3 separate regions of the Homo sapiens genome follow, and all the other regions are linked to region 2. Evidence: fine-mapped expression QTL. A gene starts in region 2. Each other region holds a variant in brackets. All regions are shown on one strand. Distances are between the middles of the regions.

Region 1 (4,239 bases), 100 kb after region 2:
TATTAAAATTATATTGATAGCCATGCCACATACTTCTTAACAAAACCAGCAGTTCTGCTGAGATTTCCAACAGTGAAGCCATTAATGAACCTCTTGTATATGAACGTAACAAATTAAACCTTATAATAAGATACTCTTTTGTAGTGTGTGAGGGAGTAAAATTAACATTGTCACTACACTGTGATGGTGCATTTCTTTCTTTTCCTTTTTTTTAAAGAATAAAACAGACAGGGTCTCACTCTGTTACCTAGGCTGGAGTGTAGTGGCCGTGATCATAGCTTACCAAAGTTTTAAACTCCCAGGCTCAAGTGATCTCCCACCTCACCACCCAAGTAGCTGGGACTACAGGTGTGTGTTACCACACTCGGCTAATTTTTAAATTCTTTGTAATAATGGGGTCTCGTCGTGTTGCCCAGGCTGGTCTCAAACTCCTGGCCTCAAATGATCCTCCTGTGTTGGACTCCCAAAGGGCTGGTATTACAGACAGGAGCCACTGTGCCTGGCCTGCATTTCTGTTTAATATTTGCACCATGTTAGGGAGCTAGAAATTATTGTTTAAAGCTTTTAAGAGTACATGACTAAGATTGGCAGAAGGGTGGATTTTACTAGGGTAAATTGGACTCAAGCAAGAGTGTTTCCCTCTACTACAAGGTAGAAACTGGACCTTTCTGTGCCTAATTCATGAGATGAAATCCTTATTGAGATTTGAAAAGAAAGTTGTAAATATGGAAGTATTTTAGAGAGAAATTGTGTATCTTTTCAGAAAATAGTTTTAGACTAGAGATTAATAATGAACACTTGAAAGTTGTCATGGGAACTCCAAGGCTGTCTTTAGTACATTCTGGTGAATGAATGATTTCTCTCATGTTTTTCCCTCATGCCCCAGTCTGCTGCCCATTTCTCTTGGAGGGAGTCATGTTCTTTTTCACCTGACCATTGGTTCTTACCCTTTGCCTGCCCTTTAAATAAATTTCTTTCCTTTTTTCTTTATCTCCCTTAACAGCCTTTTTCTAATAGTGGAAGTTACAGATTTTTCTCTGCAAAACAAGAAAAATTGCCAGAATACATCTCTCTAAGTCACTGCTTTGGTCATCATATCCTAGCCGTCTTCAGAAATCTGGAGTGACTGCTCTTGTCAACCATGTTAAATCTAAGCTCCCTTCCTAGCCCCAGAGGCTTCTTGTTATTTGGTCCTACTTTGGCCAAGCCCAGAGTAACTTCACTATTAATGGGCATCATGTCTCAGATTACTGGCTCTGGCCTTCTCTGTACCCAGCCATATTGAAATCCTGCTGTTCCTTTTGTACCAAGCTCAAAGCTCATTTATCCACTGCATTCGTTAAAAAAAAAAATTTTTTTAAATAGAGATGGGGTCTTGCTATGCTGCCCAGGGTGGTCTCCAACTCCTGGCCTCAAGCAGTCCTCCCACCTCGGCCTCCCAAAGTACTGGCATTACAGATGTGAGCCTACCACTGCATTCTTAAGTGCCTTCCTATTTTCTAAATATCAGTAATATTAGTGGCACTGTCCATTTGTATTTAACCATCAAAGCATGAAGCATGGTACTGTTAATGCATAAAGGTTAAATGATTTATACAAGGTCCCATAGCTAGTAAGTAGAGGTGCTATACTTTGAACCCAGCCTGGCTCCAGAATTTGAGCCCTTAACCACTGTGCAACACTGTAAGGACTAGTTGAAATTAATAGTATATTAGATTGACAGTACCATAACTTACAATTGTAATTCCCTTTCAGACATTTTATTTTGAAAATTACGCATGTAGGGAAGCTGAAAGAATTATACAGTGAACCACCCACATATGAATCCACTTCTTAGATTCTATTAAATGTTTAAATATTTCCTTTGAGACATATTTAGCCATCCCTGTATCCATCTTACTGTTTTGATGCATTTCAAATTCAGTTGCAGACACTTGTACATTCACCTCTAAACACTGTCCCATATGTGTCATTAATTAGAGTTAAAAAAAATTTTTTTTTTTTTTTTGAGACAGGTTCTTGCTCTGTTGCCCAGGCTGAAATGCAGTGATGTTAACACTGCTCACTATAGCCTTGAACTCGTGGGCTCCAGCAGTCCTCCCACCTCAGCCTCCTGAGTAGCTAGCAGCACGGGTATGCACCACCATACCTGGTTAATTTTTTTATTTTTTATAGAGACAGGGTCTTGCCATGTTGCCCAGGCTGATCTTGAACTCCTGGGCTCGAGTGATCCTCCCACCTTGGCTTCCCAAAGTGCTAGGATTATAGGTATGAGCTCCTGCGCCTGTCCCAGTATTTTTAAAGGTAAGTTTTATACATACTGAAATGTACAAATCTTAAGTGTGCTATTGGTGAATTTCGATAAAGGCACATACCTTGTAACCCAAGCCTCTATCAAGATAAAATTATGTAATACCCTTTTAGTTGAATATTTGGCTTTTTTTTCTTTTTCTTTTTC[T/TTTTTC]TTTTTTTTTTTTTTTTTTGAGACAGAGTCTTATTCTGTCACCCAGGCTGGAGTGCAGTGGCATGATCTTGGCTCACTGCAACCTCCGCCTCCCGCATTCAAGCAATTCTCCTGTCTCAGCCTCCCAAGTAGCTGGGATTACAGGCACCTGCCACCACGCCCAGCTAATTTTGTTTGTATTTTTAGTAGAGACAGGGTTTCACCACTTTGGCCATTGTTGGTCTGAACTCCTGACCTCAAGTGATCCGCCTGCCTCGGCCTCCCAGGGTGCTGGGATTACAGGCGTGAGCCACTGGGCCCAGCCTTTGGCTCTCTTGTAGTTCAAGTACATGAGTTCTACATGCCCCTCAGAATTAACCCCTGCTTTTCTGATTGTTCGTGAACTTTCATTGGTTCTTCAGTTTATTACATTGACTTGAGAACAGGGCCATCTCCAGCTTATTTGCCAGCTTACTTGGCATGGAGCATAGTATGATTGATGGGCTTGTTATTGTAGTCATCATTCTGAATTCCTAAATGGTATACATGTGTATTCTTCATTGATTAAAAATTCCTTTGATATGTCGTTTCCAGTCATTTTCATGAATTAAGCTGACCATATTCCTATTTGTTTTCCAATAGCACATGACTTGTTCAAGTGGCTTTGATGTTGAGGGAATGCTTCCCTTGAAACCTATCCTTTTTTTTCCGTGACTGCCATTTTACAGGTATTGTTTAAAGATTTCTCAGACTGGTTTAGGAGGAAAGGATGGTTCTGTGAGTCTCATCTCCCATCTACACCCATTCCCTTGGTGATCTCATCTAGGCTAGTGACTTTAAATACCTGTATTCACGGATGATGACTTCTAAATTTATGTTTCCAGCCTGGACCATTCCCCTGGACTTGTCATCTCTACTTGGACGACTAATAAACATTCTAACTTTAACATGTCATATATTGAATCTTAATTGTTCTGCATCCCCCACTTTCCTAATGTGTTCCACTTAATAGTCTTCTTAATCTTTTCTTGGTATTCAGTTAGTTAAAATGCTAGTTACAAATAACAGGGCTCAGAGCAGTGGCTCACGCCTGTAATCCCAGCACTTTAGGGTCGCTTGAGCCCAGGAGTTTGAGACCAGCCTGGGCAACATGGCAAAACCCCATCTCTACAATAAATACAAAAATTAGGCAGGTGTGGTGCCATGCACCTGTAGTCGCAGCTACTTGGGAGGCTGAGGTGGGAGAATCGCTTGAGCCCAGGAGGCAGAGGTTGCAGAAAGCCAAAACTGCAACTCTGCATTCCAGTCTGGGCAACAGAGCAAGACCCAGTCTCAACAACTAAACAAAAAACAGAAGTCTAACCTTTCATAAGTATATCTAATCCCCAGACTCCCTTCTCAATTTAAACTGAGGGCGGGGTGTGGTGTGCGTGTGCATGCGTGTGTGTGTGTGTTTAAAGATTGTGTGTGTGTGTTTAAAGATTGATATAAAATATTTGAAAGGTGAGATCTTAAAAATATTATTTTCCAATGTGGTACCTCTGATACTGAAATAATTGATGAATAAATCAAAATACTGATTATTGTTTTTGGAAAGCCAGTGATTTATGTTTTTACTGGAAATATATTTGTTTAATAATTCTAGTTATAAATTAGGGTAATGGATTTGGTGGGAGTGTCAGCTGAACTTCAGATAAACCGTTTATAGTTTGTCCTGTTCTTCATAATCTATCTGATTCAACACACATCTAATTCAAAGCAAGCACAAATTGAGTGTCTAAATGGTACCACTTATGCACTGT
Region 2 (4,239 bases):
CTCCCAGGCTCAAGCGATCCTCCCACCTCAGCCTCCCAAGTAGCTGGGACTACAGGTAGGTGCCACTACACCCAGCTATGTTTTTGTATTTTTTTGTAGACAAGGGTTCTATCATTTTGCCCAGGCTGGTCTCCTGAGCTCATGTGATCCACCCATCTTGGCCTCCCAAAGTGCTGGGATTACTTGTGTGAGCCACTGTGCCCATCCTCTTTTTCTTAAAGGTTGTTCTCTCCCCACTTCATGGTCCTATTGCCCTTTGTCAGCATCTGTTAACTAGCACAGGCCCACAGTACTTTGAATTACAGTGGGCACATTCACCCACAGATGTTCACTAGGCACTCCCTAGGGGATGGGCAATGTGCTGGGTGCTGCAGGAGATACAGCTCCTGCTTTCCAGAAGTTTATATTCCCTTGGGGGAGAGGGAGATGTGAGGAGTAGAGGGTAAACACGGTAAGGGCAGGTCTCCCTAGCACCCTGCTCTCTATTCAGCACAAGGCCAGCAGTGGACATCGTCGTCTTGCATTATTCAGGTTTATAGGCCAATACTGAAATCTATCTTATTCATCATCCCGTGAGCAGGGGAAACATCATTAGGGTTTTCTATACCAGGATGATAGTGAGCATGTAGTAGTTTTTGTTTTTTTGTGTTGTTTGTTTGCTTTGTAATTTTGTTTTCTTTTGTTTTTGGAGTATTCACTATGAAGATAAGAAAGGGTAAGAATAAAATGCCCCAAATGACCAGAGGAATAGAGATAGAAGTCAGGTCCCTCAAATTTGTTGGAGGAGGGGGACAAGCTGGGAGGGGGGACGTGCTGGGGGCGGGGCGGGAACAAGCCCAAAAAGGGACAGCTGCTGCGGTGCCTCTTTTGTGTTTGTAAATGTCCTCCCCGCAAGGTGGCTCTAGCCTGTAATCCCAGCACTTTGGGAGGCTGAGGAGGATTTCTTGAGCCCATGAGTTTGAGACCAGCCTGGCAACATAGTGAGACTCTGTGTCTGTAGTTCCAGCTACTCCGGAGGCTGAGGTGGGAGGGTCGGTTGTCCAGGGATTTGAGGCTGCAGTGGGCCGTGATCGCGACACTCCACCCCAGCCTGGGCGACAGAGGGAGACCCCGTCTTAAAAAAAAAAAAAAGTCCTTGATCAAGAGGGCTTCGGGTGTTTCCATCTGTGGAGTGAGGGGACGGGTTAGGTGAATTCTAGGGGCGCTTCCACCTCACATTATGAAAGGTCCTGAGAGTCAGATTCTAGTTCCACTGTGTCCCGAAGCTGTGGGGCCTTTCCTTAGCCTCCGCTTCTCCTTCTGTAAAGCCAGGTAGTTGGCCTAGATCACTTTTCCAGAAGACTGTGACTCCGGGACACCTGTGACACTCTTGAGGGGAGCGTGCCCAGTACCCCTGGTCGCGTCTCTGGGATTCCGCCGGGGTGGGGGCCCGCGCGAGGCCGCCCCTGAGCCTCACCTGTGCGCGGAGCGGTGACTCACCTGCCCTCGCGCAGCCCTCTCCGCCCGCGGGCTGTTCCAGGAGTCACCGCTCCTCCTCCCTCTCAGGGGTCACTCCCGGCCTAAGCTCCCACTAGGGGCCGGGGAGGAAGGAATTCTGAGGTGGGCGGCGGGGAGGAAGAGGTCCCTCGGGGGTCCCGGTCCGGCGTTGCCAGACTCTCTTCGCGGTGGGGGCCTTCCCTTTCCCCAAAAGCGGAGGCCGGAACGGCCGGGAGGAGCGGGCGGGGCGGCGGCGGGAGGCGCCGGGAAGAGCGAGTCGGAGGGAGGTGCCAGGAAGGGCGGGCGGGGCCGGGACAGGGGCGGGGGCCGCGGGCGGGGGGCGGGCCGGGGGCGGGGGCGTGGGGCGGCCCATTTCCTCCTCCTAGCCGGACTGGAGGGAGACAAAGCAGCGCCCGTCTGCTTCGGGCCTCTGGAATTTAGCGCTCGCCCAGCTAGCCGCAGGTAACTTCGTACCTCCCTCCTCGCGGGCGCGGTCTCTCGGGCCAGGCCGAGAGGGTCCTTGGGCCGGGCCGTCCCAAGCTGGGCCCCGCGAGCCGCGGGCGGGCGAGCGGGCGGGGCGCGGTTTCTTTGGCGACGTCGCCGGGAATTGGGCCCCGGGCGGGCGTGGGACCCGCGTCGGGCCGGCGGTCCCTTCCCCCGCAGGGCCCGAGTATGGGGCCCGGGCGGGCACGGCCGGCGCTTCCCAGCGCTCGGGAAGTCGGGGGGCCGCCTGGGCTGGGGAGGAGAAACTATAGGCCCAGCGCCGCCGCCGCGTTTCCTCTTGGAAAAGTTTTCTCGCGGTTTCCAAACTTTGTTACCGCGGCCTCGGCGCGCGCGGCAGCCCCGCGCCGGGCCCCTCGGCCGCCTTCCTTCCCTGGGGCGGCTTGTCTGGGAGCCGCTTTCCCGGGAAGTGATTGTCGTCCGGCTCCGAGGCGTTCCTGCCCCCTCCCCCTTCCCGGCCGCTGAGACTTCCCGATGGGGCGGCGGGGACGCGGGCTCGGCGAACCGGGAGGCTGGAGCCCGGGCTTCTCCCATACAGCTTCGCCGTAGGTGGGCCACACCCGTGTGGACTTTTGGCGTGACCGTCCACTTGGACTCGGGGATTACTCAGCTTTCCTGGGTTTCTTGTCGGTTGGACGCACTTAGCTTTCAGCCCTAGTTTTCAGGAGTGGCATTAGAGAGGTTTTTTTTTTTTTTTAATTGTTGTTGACTTTTAAAGGAGCGTGTGTGTGCGTGCGAGTGTGAAGCACTTGTTGGAAAAAATGTTGCCTGAATGAATGCCTGACCTTTGCTTGGCAGCAGTGGCTTCCCAGTAATGCAGGCGGCGGTTGGCCCAGTTCCAAGGTTGACTCCCTCTTACGTCCTCTTGCATCTTGGTGACATTTTTTTGGTGCGTGTGTTTTGTACAGAATTTACAATTATTTGGAAAAGAGCGAGATATGTCAAGTCTACGACTAAATTCGGGGCATTTTATATTTATGATGAAGGAAATGCTTACATCATTGTTGGGACAGGATAGGCATTTTGTGGAGCGAATATTTGTGTTTAGTCAGCAGTGATTTTTAAATACTGGACAGGTGGGTGTTACTTTAAGGAACGGAATTTATAAATCGAATTAATTAGGATGTGTTATTTTGTTTTACAGGAAGAATGAAGAATGAGTGTAGGAGTTACCTATAGTTTCTGCCTAATTATTTACCAATCTGGACTTTTGAACAAACATTTTTTTTAAAGACGGGGTCTCCGTCGCCCGGGCTGGAGCGCAGTGACACGATCATGACTCACTGCGGCTTCTGTCTCCTGGGCTCAAGTGATCCCCCCACCTCGGCTTCCGAAGTAGTTGGGACTACAGGCACGCGCCACCACATCCGTCTAATTTTTGTATTTTTGGTAGAGATGGTGTCTCGCTGTCTTGCCCAAGCTGGTCTCGAACTCCTGGGCTCAAGTGGTCCTCCTGCCTCAGCCTCCCAAAGTGTTGTGATTACAGGCCTGAGCCAGGGTGCCTGACCCCATCTGGATATTTATTCAGCGAAAGAATAATTTTTTAATCCACCTAAGAGCTCACAGTGTAATAGGGGAGACACACACCCCAGGTGTAGTACAGAGCGGACTGCAGTAAGTGCCTTAACAGTACTAATGAAACTATTGTCTGAGTCAAATCTTACCTAATAGTAACAACAAAAGAAACTTGTAGAGGCACGGAGAGGGGGCTAATAAGTTTTACTTGGGTAAGTCCAGAAAGGCTTTCAGGAGGTGGTGGCATTTGATCTGGATGAAACATGAGTCGAGTTTTTTTTAAGTGAAGGGAGAAAGTCATGAGAAGCATAAAAGGGCATAGGAGTTTGGGGAATTGTGATATCACTCTCCTGGTTTTCTTTTCCTTTTGACTCATCTCAGTTTCTTTCTTTTCCTCGCCCTCACTCTTTCCTCTCGTACCCAGGGTTCTTTCCAAAGTATCTTTGTCCTCCACACCACTGATGTGGCATCACCTTCACTCCCATCAGTGATATCTCATTTCATATAGTGACTTAGAGATGAGAGGTACCCTCCTCCAAGATGAGAATCACTGCTCTGTGCAGTCTCTTCTGTCATCAGCCTTATGTGCTAAAAGTCCAAGCCTTTGAGTGCAGGTGTGTCTCCTGACCCACATGGTCACCTGTGCATTGGGAAGCTTTTTGGGTGTCCCAGGCTTCTCAAACTCAAGGTGTCCAAAGTGGGACTCCTGTCTCTTCTGGAGACATGAACCAGATGTGGAGATCCAGG
Region 3 (4,239 bases), 180 kb after region 2:
TTGGGCTTGCAGCAGAAAAACCTGACAACATAGTGTTTGCTAAGGCAGTAATTTAGACTTTACCTTATTTGTGATTACTGTAGTGATTGATTGATTGATTACTATTAACTACAAGGTATAATTTACTATCACCTTATTTAAATTTTATGAATTAATTTGAATGTTTTTTACACTAACTAACTTTTCCCAATAAAGTCCACTATGAAACCACGACATCCAAGAGCCCAAAGTCGTCTTCTCTGCCTTCAAGTCATAGATTTGCCCGCAGTATCTGTGGTGCTCTGGGCCCTCCCGGTGTCCGTCTCTTCCAGGATGGGGATGCCCGGGAGGGAAACTGTCTGTGGCTCTAGGCTGCACGGCTCGTGCCAACCCATCAGGGAGGGCCATGCCCGTTGTCCTATTGAGTGCCCCACCCTGCACCCCCACCTTGGGAATTCACATGTCCATTCCTTGAGGTTCATGTCAACCTCGGAGGCATCCCTGTCTTCATTATAGCTGACCCCTCTCCTGCGTCCTTCTGTCAGCATATCCCTTCTGCATCCTTCCCGTCACACATACATACCAAGCTATGATGATTGATTGATAGTGGCCTTCGAGATGAAAACCATCCTTAACCCCATGATCCTTCCCAGCTGGCATCCCCACCCTAAGCAAGGTTCCCTAAAGAGAAGCTTGTTGACATTTTCTCCCCTTCCTCACTTACAGTCAGCTGTCACCTTGCTCCCTCCACCTCCCCTCGTCAAGGTGACTGCCTTCCACTGCCAGCCACACTGGCAATTGTCTTGAGACCTCACTGTGCAAGCGGCCTGGGGGCGTGGCGGGGAGGAGGAGGAGGACAAGGACTCCTGAACGCTGCTCACTCGGCTTCCAGGACACCCCGCTCAGGTTCTGCCTGCCTTACTGGGGGCTCCTTCTCCTTTCCTGGGGCTGAGAGGTTGTGTCTGTGCCCACTCTCCTGAGCTCAGCCAGAATCTCGCATGTAAAGACATCCAAATGCCGACTTCTTCTCCCCAGAGCCTGGCTTTTATAACTGACTGCCGCCTCACGCTCCATTCGGATGTCTAATGAATCTCTCAGACTTGACCTGTCCAAACTGCTTGCCACCTCTACTCGCCACCGCCCACCCCCACACCCTCCATACCGTTTTCCCCACGTCACTGCCCCTCCCCCCCTTCCTCTTGCCAAATGCCTAAAAATAAAAATTCTGAGGTGGATCTGTAGCACAATGGGCTTCTAGTGACAAATCAAAATTCTGATCTTTAAAATGTATGCACAATTTACCTGTTACCGCCTGGCCTAAGCCATCCTGCTGTTACTGCTGTGTAGCAAGTTGCAGCCAAAGCGACCTCACACGGCTCCTGAAGGTCAAGAATCTGGGAGCAGCTCAGCTGGATGGCTGTGACTCGGGGTCTCATGAAGTGGCCAAGATGCCAGCTAAGGCTGCCGTCTCTGAAGGCTTGACCTGGCGAGGATTTGCTTCCAGACTCACTCGCGTGGCTATTGACAGAAGGCCTCAGTTCCATGCCACATGGCCCGTTCCACAGAGCAGCTCACAGCTTGGTAGTAGCTGGCTTCCCCAGAGCGGTATCTGCGAGCAGCGTCCAGATGGAAGCCATGGTGTTCCCTTAAAACCTGATATGGAGGGTGATTCCCCATCATGTCTGTATTCTGTGGGTCACACAGACCAAGGCCGGTCCACTGTGGAAGGCAAGGACGAGGTTGCCAGTGCCCGGCGGTGGGTGGCCACAGCCAGCCTCCCTGCCAGTGTCCCCCACAGACAAGTTGTCCCTGTAAGACAGGTCAGCTCAGGTCATTCCGAGCTCAGACCTTCCAACGGCGTCCATGTCCCTCAGTAAAAGCCAGAGTCCTAAAGGCCTCTTGCCTGCTCTGGCCTCCTCTCACCATTCTCTGCCATCCTCCATCTGCCCCTGGTGTCCCTGAAGTCTTGAACATGCCGAGCACATCCTGCCTCGTATGCTTCCTGGCCTGGAATGCACTTGCCCCGGGACACCCTGTGCTGGCTTTAGTGTTTCCTTCCTGTCTCCTCAAGTCACCTTATTATCAAAAGGACTCCGACAGGCTAAGTGTGGTGGCTCATGCCTGTAGTCCCAGCACTCGGGAAGGCCGAGGTGGGAGGATCGCTTGAGCCCAGGAGTTCAGGACCTGCCTGGGCAACATGGCAAAACTTTGTCTCTCT[TAA/T]AAAAAAAAAAAAAAAAAAAAAAAAGTCCAATGTCCATTTATGTATCTCTTAACATCTTCCCTTGTGCCTCAGTGGGAAAGCAGCCCACACCATCCCTTGCTCCCTGGGCTCCTCCATCCTCTGCCAAGGCTCACAGCACCGCAGGCACCAGCCCTCACTGGACTGACCTATGGGGAATAGCCAGTGTTGGCTCTGCTCATCCTCATCAGAGGCAAAGGGCTTGTTGGCATGTGCTCGATAGATAGTAGTTGAACAATGTGGACCATTATTGATTTAAACCAACCCATCAGAAGGTGTTAGAGGGCAAAAAGCTGGCAAATGAGAAGGCACCAGGGGCCTGGAGAGCCGAGGCTGAGGCTCAGAGGCCCTGCCCCGAAGTCCTGACCCCTCCTCTCACCTCACAGACCACGACAGAGCTGGGCCAAGCAGGAGGGGAACTGCCTGTGCGTGCGGGGCCTTTGGGGCCTTCCTGCAGCCTCCTTTATGCTCGCTCCTGCCCCTGTGCCATCTGCAAAGGGGACTGCCTCCCCTCTGCATCCCGAGATTTCGCATCCAGGACGGGCCCCTGCTCTCAGCAGTCTTGTTGATGCCTCATCAGAGGAGGGTTGGGGGAACAGAGCCAAGGACCAAAGCCGAGTCCCAGATCCCTCCACCCCACTGTGCCTCCCCAGCCTGTCACCCTGCGTTGGTGACCCCTCAGACCTGCTCCCTACTCCCTGCACTCAGCACACAGCCCCTGCTCTCCTGTGGCTAGCAGCACCCATGCCTCTCCCAGGATGGCTCTGTCCTGGTCCCTGCCTGCTTAGTGCCCTGCAGGGGTTCCCGTGTCTCCTGTGCAACACCTTCAAAGGCCACAGTTCACTCTGCAGCCTTCATCCTCACAGCTTCCAGCCCCAACCTCTTCCACCCTCCTCCCAGGACAAGGCCTCCTCCCCTCCCCACGGAAGCAAGAGAGAAGGAGCTGCCACGTGCTGGGCACCTCAGAGCCTGTGTCCAGCCTTTACTCTCGTCACCCCATTTCATCTGTGCGACCCGAGATGTCAGTGCCATTGCTGCATCTCCAGCTGCACAGCTGAAGAAGTGACTAGGGGAGGTGAAGTCACACTGCGGCAAGTGGCTGGCCCCGCCACCCGGCTTTGAGAGGCACTTCCTCCAGGGCCCCCAGCTTTGGGCCATCCCTCCTGGACCCTCTGAGTAATGGTGATGCCAGTGGCCACTCCCTCCCTCTCACACCTTGTCGATTCCCACGGTTCCCTGCCCGTCACCAATGCGTGTCCCTCGTCTCCCTTACCAGCTCCTTCTCCTCGTGGCCCCTGACATTGAGGTGCTCCAGGGCTCCCATCTGGAGCCTCCTCTCCATGTTCAGTGACACCCAGCAGGGGCTTGCTGGTCAATGTTGAGCCACCGGCTCTCTAGGGCCAGGCCAGGGAGGATGCGAACAGATGCACATCTGTGCATTTAGAAAACACGGGACCGCTATAAAGGAATTGCAGCACACCATTCACAAAAGGAGACGTACAGGACTCTAACTGGGAATCCCAGCCAGCCAGCTGATTCCCACAGAAGGCTTTCATTGATTTTTGCCAGACTCTTGCATCCACGGCCAACCTATGGTTGTAACTGACAAACGAGACTAGTTCCAACAGGAATGCTGCTTGATATTTGTGTTTACCTTAAGGAATAAATGAAAGTGAAACAACAAAAACCTATGTTGGACTTTCACTTTGTCAGTGAGTGACTTCCTTGCTGAGTCAGATAATAGTTGTTAACTACTTTGACAATTTCTTCCATTTTTTTTTGTGCTACTGACGATGTAACTGCTATAGATAACACACATTTACATTTAATTGGCATTATTAACATAACAAATTCACCTTTGATCTGTAGCGTTTCCCAATTTCCATGGGTAAATGCTCCCACCACATCAGATTTCGAGCCACGGGCTGGCAGTGCGAAAACGTGGAGTTGGTTAGAGAAGCCCAGGAGCGCGCCGTGATGCATCCTTCTATCACCCAGACAATTGGACCGATTGTGGTAAA

Which allele goes with the higher level. Alleles are on the strand shown, and positions count from the first base shown. SD is a standard deviation of normalised expression in the study named.
With allele TTTTTC in place of T in region 1, the expression in monocytes after triphosphate RNA of the gene that starts at base 1,853 in region 2 is higher (large effect, 0.75 SD a copy in Kim-Hellmuth 2017).
For the expression in CD4 T cells of the gene that starts at base 1,853 in region 2, allele TAA in region 3 goes with a higher level than allele T (moderate effect, 0.60 SD a copy in BLUEPRINT).

The links. PIP is the estimated chance that this variant, and not a neighbour inherited with it, causes the effect.
Region 1: its variant is the best candidate, but not a certain one, in a credible set for the expression of CTNNA1 in monocytes after triphosphate RNA (Kim-Hellmuth 2017, PIP 0.80).
Region 3: its variant is the best candidate, but not a certain one, in a credible set for the expression of CTNNA1 in CD4 T cells (BLUEPRINT, PIP 0.75).

What each region holds. Positions count from the first base shown.
Region 1 is chr5:138,856,137-138,860,375 of GRCh38, forward strand. The region is part of intron 7 of CTNNA1 (catenin alpha 1); the gene reads left to right. Among named protein-coding and RNA genes, the nearest start is that of LRRTM2, 17 kb to the right of the region's middle. The variant T/TTTTTC (reference allele first, on the strand shown) is at 2,459.
Region 2 is chr5:138,751,573-138,755,811 of GRCh38, forward strand. CTNNA1 (catenin alpha 1) reads left to right here and starts at 1,853. Exons shown (of 18, transcript NM_001903.5): 1 at 1,853-1,938. CTNNA1-AS1 (CTNNA1 antisense RNA 1) reads right to left here and starts at 2,352. Exons shown (of 2, transcript NR_134244.1): 1 at 1,951-2,352. RefSeq lists a silencer at 1,743-2,182 and enhancers at 1,886-2,453, 2,454-3,020.
Region 3 is chr5:138,934,820-138,939,058 of GRCh38, forward strand. It overlaps CTNNA1 (catenin alpha 1), which reads left to right. Exons shown (of 18, transcript NM_001903.5): 18 at 1-215. Among named protein-coding and RNA genes, the nearest start is that of LRRTM2, 62 kb to the left of the region's middle. The variant TAA/T (reference allele first, on the strand shown) is at 2,198.